Linked DNA regions of Homo sapiens: region 1 is linked to region 2. Evidence: fine-mapped expression QTL. Tissue or cell type: whole blood. Region 2 holds a variant in brackets; the other region holds the start of a gene. All regions are shown on one strand. Distances are from middle to middle.

Region 1 (2,500 bases), 66 kb before region 2:
ATAATAGCCTAAAGCAAAACTAACGAATCACATAAAAAATCCCCCACGCTATTGTCCTTAGTAGTTTACATTGTGCTAGATACTTTCGCATGTATATGCATACAACTTCTATTCTGTTTTTAAACTTTGCATTACATATACATTCTTCCATATTATATGATCTTCATAAAAATAGTTACATGGCTGCATAAAAAACCATGCGGTTCCTGGACTATTATGCTATTCCCTCATTCCCCTTTTGTTATTAATGGAATATAGCAAAGAACATCTTCTGTACGATTATTTGTCAAGAATAGGGCCGGTGCGGTGGCTCAGGTCTGTAATCCCAGCACTTTGGGAGGCCGAGGCGGGCTGATCGCTTGAGGTCAGGAGTTCGTGACCAGCCTGGGCAACATGGGAAAACCTAAACGTCTCTACTAAACATGTCTCTACTAAAAATACAAAAATTAGTGGGGCGTAGTGGTGCACACTGTGGTCTCAGCTACTCCAGAGGCTCAGGTGGGAGGATCACCTGAGCCCCGGAAGTTGAGACTGCAGTGAGCCGTGTTCGCACCACTGCACTCCAGCCTGGGCGACAGAGGGAGACCCTGTCTAAAAACAAAAAAATAAAAAATAAATTTCTAGCAGTACAGTTACAATGTCAAAGGATAAGGTACACATTTTTTAAAAACTTTTCTCTTTCTCCTCCTGAGATAACGAAATACAGTAGCGTATGAACAACTCTTCATACATTACTCTCCAAGGTTTATCTTGTTAATCCTTTAAGACGTATCATCTCCCCATCCTTGGCTGCACCTGAAAAGAGCGGGAGTCGGCAGGTAACCTGATCTCCTCCACCAGGTGAGTCCCGGATGGAGGTGTCAACTACAAGACCAGGAGCAGAGCATTCCTGGGGTTTTGCTGGAACCATCGGCGTGGGAATGCTTTCTCTTCCCTCGCCCGAAAGACGCCAAGTTCCCGGCAGGCAGCGGACTCGGTTCTAACCTTCCTCGCCCCAGCCTCTCGGAGCGCCCTGCACGCAGTGGGCGTCTAATAAAATGCAGTTGGCCCTGCTTGGACAAAAGTTCTCCCTTAAGTGGCCCGGACAGTAAACCCCTCCAGGTGCCACAGAGCTGCCGCGCCCGCCGCCGCTTTGCTCCCTGCCTGCTCCCTCCCAGCGTTCCGCGTGGGACCCTCGGCGGCAGCTCACACCCTCCCTGACTGCCGGTGCCCGCCAGGGCACCCTGCGCGCGCCCGCCGGCCCCGCCCCGGCCCCGCCCCGCCCCGCCGGCCCCGCCTCCCGTCTCCTCCCCGCCCCCCGGAGCCGACGAGTGGCGGCGGCGGCCCCAGGTCCCGGGTCCCTCAGACAAGAGGGCGGGTGGAGGAGGAAGCGGCCGAGCCCAGAGTTCTGCTCCGGCGCCCCCGAGCACCGCCCGCTTCAGCCGACCAGCCCCGTCGGCTACTGGGCCTCGCCGAGACGAGAGGAGGGAAAGGCCTCGGCGGCCGCGAGGAGGCGGCGGGGGCGCGGGCGGAGGCGGCGCGGGCGGCCGCGGCTGCCGCTTTGTTGTGCGGCCCGGGCCGAGGAAGGAGAAGTGGGAGGAGGGGGGAGCTCGGCGTCCCGCTCCCTCCGCGGCTCATGGCGACGACTCTCGGCACATCCGGGACCCTCCGGCCGTGGCGGCCGAGGCGCCGGCTGCTCGGGCCCCAGCCCCGGCCGCTGTGGTGACTCCGCCGCGCCTCGCCGTCGCCCCCGTGCCGCCCGCCGCCCCCGCCGCCCCCGCCGCCGGGGACATGTCTAACCCCGGAGGCCGGAGGAACGGGCCCGTCAAGCTGCGCCTGACAGGTGAGGGGGGGCGGCGGGCCGGGCTGGGCAGCCGCGGGGTGGGCGAGCTGGCGGGGGGTGCCTGTGGCCTTGGGAAGGGCCAGGGTCGCGATCAATGATGAGTTGGGGGTCGGAGGAATGGGAAGGCCTAGTTCAGGGAGAGTAATTGGAAAACCACTTGCTCTGGTTTGGACATTGTTTAAAAAGCCGAGGATGACTCGGGGCGGGGGGTGGTGTTTTGTGGAGGGGAGAATACACCGGTTCGCATCGCAGGCGGATTTCAGGTCGGAAAGTCTTGGTCAAGGAGCCAGACGCTGCCTCCCGGGGCTCGGGGAACAGCCCCTGGGCTACCGCCCAGGTGAGATCGTGAAGGGGATGAAGAGCTCCCGTGGCGAGGATTATTGAATCCGGTTGCTGACTGCGCGCAGTAAACACTCCTTAAAGATGGAGCGCTTAACGGGAGGGTGTGCGTGTGTGTTCCCGGGTTGTTACCTTGCACACACCCAGTTATGCCCGCATGAAAAACCTTTACTCCCCGCCGCCGGCCACCGCTGCCCGGGCCACACACCTTAAACTCATGTCTCTGAGGTGAGGAGACAGGTTGACTTTTCCGGTGTGCCTGTCTGATCCGACGGCTTGGGCTCATTGTACACTGTGTTTTGGAAGTGTCTGATTGTAGGGTGGCATGTTTGGGGTTGT
Region 2 (2,763 bases):
CTCAGCCTCCCGAGTAGCTGGGACTACAGGTGCCCACCACCACATTCAGCTAATTTTTGTATTTTTAGTAGAGATGGGATTTCACCATGTTGGCCAGGCTGGTCTCGAACTCCTGACCTCAAGTGATCCGCCTGCCTCGGTCTCCCAAAGTGCCGGGATTACAGACATGAGCCACTGCGCCCAGCCTAGTTTTAGGTATTTTTGAATTTCCTACCTAGAAGATGATTCGGCTTTATTTTTTATTATTAAAAATTCTTTTAAAATTAGAAACAGTCTCACTCTATTGCTCAGGCCAGAGTGCAGTGGCATAATCATAGCTCAGTGTAGCCTCTAACTCCTGGACTCAACTGATCCTCCCACCTCACCCTCCTCAGTAGCTGGAACTACAGGTGCATGCCACCATGCCCAGCTAATTTTTTTTTTAAGGTAATTTTTTGTAGAGATGGGGTCTTGCTATATTGCCCAGTCTGGTCTTGAATTCCTGGGCTCAAGATTCTCCCTCCTTGGCCTCCCAAAGTATTTGGATTACAAGCGTGGGCTGTGATGCCCAGCCCAGTGGTTCAGCTTTTAAAATTGGTATTCAGCATCCCCATTCTCATGACACAAGCCTCTTCCTTTCTTTAGTCTTCCAATATAATTATATGAACCTTTTTGGTTAAACCATTGTTCCATGTTTACATTATTATGATTATGTAAATATCCATAGTTGGGTCACAGGGGTACAAGAATTACATTTTCTTTCTTGACAACTTTTGTTTTTTCTGAAGTTAGTAGCTACTTTTCCCATTTGTTTAGTTATCTATTTATCTCCTAGATAGAAATGAGAAGTTATATGTCATAATCCTCAGACTCTCCTATAGAACTAAAGATCTTTTCTCCATATATTCAGTTCTGTCAGTATTCCATTGGCTTTTTTTCTTCTTGGAGATAACCCTCCTGGGAGTCTGTGTTCTCTTTCTTTAGTCTTGTGTGATGGTTCTCTAAGACCCACTGCGCAGTTGTCCTGGGACTTGCCTTTATTGTTATGTTGGCAATTTCCTTTGTCTCTTCTAGGTTTAGTGACTTCCTTTTTTTTTTTTTTTTTTTTTTT[TG/G]TTTACTCTCCTGTTTCGGTGAACTTTATCTTCCATTGTCATTTTGAGAAATAATACAAAGATGGGAAGAAAGTTGAGATCTTATCAGAAGATATACTTTGACTTCTTATCTTTTGATATGGTTTGAATATAGGCTTCTAGGTGAAATATCACTTTACCTCCAAATGTTGAATACATTGCTCCATTATCTTCTAGGTTTAGATCCATACTGTTGAGTAGAAATATAATGTAAGGCACAGATGGGAGCTCATCTATAATTTTAAATTTCCTAGCATCCACGTTAAGATAAGTAAAAAGAAACAGATGACATTAAGCATAATAAACTGGGCATAGTGGCTTGCACCTGTAATCCAGCTACAACATAACGAGACCCTGTTTCTTAAAATGAAGCATAATAATATATTTTATTTAATTCAGTATATCAAAAATACTTTCAACATGTCAGTATAAAAATATTGAGCTACTTACACATATATGTATATATACATATTTACTATGTCTCTAAAAAATCAGCGGTTTTCTCATTTTATGTTAAGAAAAAAAAAAATCAGTGGTTTATTTTGCAGCTTGCCTCAATTTGGACTAGCCACACTTGAAGTCCTCAAGGGTCTCGTGGTTGGTGGGTACCATTTTGGAAATTGTAGGTTTAGAGTATTGCTGATGGCATCCTGATTTTGATCTTTCATGACTGTTGTTTTCCACTGGAAGTTTCTTTATTCCTCTGTCACTGTTATTTTCTTTTAAAAAAAATTGTGGCCACCCTAGTGGGTATGAAGTTGTATCTGGTCATGGTTTTGAGGTGCATCATGACTAATGATGTTGAACATCTTTCTTGTACTTATTAGGTTTTATCTTACAATTAATATTAATTGGCTGTCAGAAGCATCTCTTATGATTGTTTCCAAAGTCATTTTACAAAACCCTTGCCTTTAATTGGCTAAGTATACAAACAAAATCTAATAATTAAATTTTAGCCCAAAATCCTGAGTACATATTTTGGTCTATATGGTAACATTGTATTCACCTATAGAGGTGTCCCTCTCTCCCTTTCAACAAAACATCCTGAAACTTGTTTATAAATCATGTATTTGTTAGTAAGTCAAAGTTTTAATAGAAGCTAATAGAGCCCTCTATTTAACTTTCAATTGCAAAAGGAATTTACTGTTTTTGTTGCCATGTATGTTATATTACATGAGGTTTCATTAAAGTGAGAGCATGTACTTCTCTATGTATAAGAAAAGGTAATATTTTGGATTCATTTCTGGCCCAGGAATATTTGGACAGAATGTTTGTGACATGTACGCTTAAGTAATACAATATATTTCATAATTTTTAGTAATTCAGAGTTAGGCTATCTTCCAGAAGGTCTATAATTAGCAATTTCTTATTATGATTTAATGTAGAGCTTCCCAACCTTTTCATATCATGGTACACATAAAAAATATGGCACATTGGACTACACAGATGAAGTTGCTTAAGCCAGTGGTGCGTTGCCCTGAGGACTGAGGTAATCAATATATGTATTTCAGCATACCTGTAAACCAGGCTTACTAGTTGGACAACTGGTTTAACGTAACTTTTTTTTTTCTTTTTTTGAGACGGAGTTTTGCTCTTGTTGCCCAGGCTGGAGTGCAGTGACGCAATCTAGGCTCACCACAACCTCCGCCTCCCG

The links. PIP is the estimated chance that this variant, and not a neighbour inherited with it, causes the effect.
Region 1: SMURF2 starts here. The variant in region 2 is fine-mapped to the expression of SMURF2 in whole blood (INTERVAL, PIP above 0.99).

Annotation. Positions count from the first base shown.
Region 1 is chr17:64,661,151-64,663,650 of GRCh38, reverse strand. It overlaps SMURF2 (SMAD specific E3 ubiquitin protein ligase 2), which reads left to right and starts at 1,344. Exons shown (of 19, transcript NM_022739.4): 1 at 1,344-1,822. The coding sequence starts at 1,771. RefSeq lists an enhancer at 492-1,050 and silencers at 1,201-1,600, 1,651-1,850.
Region 2 is chr17:64,594,914-64,597,676 of GRCh38, reverse strand. All of the region lies in intron 3 of SMURF2 (SMAD specific E3 ubiquitin protein ligase 2), which reads left to right. Among named protein-coding and RNA genes, the nearest start is that of SMURF2, 66 kb to the left of the region's middle. The variant TG/G (reference allele first, on the strand shown) is at 1,091.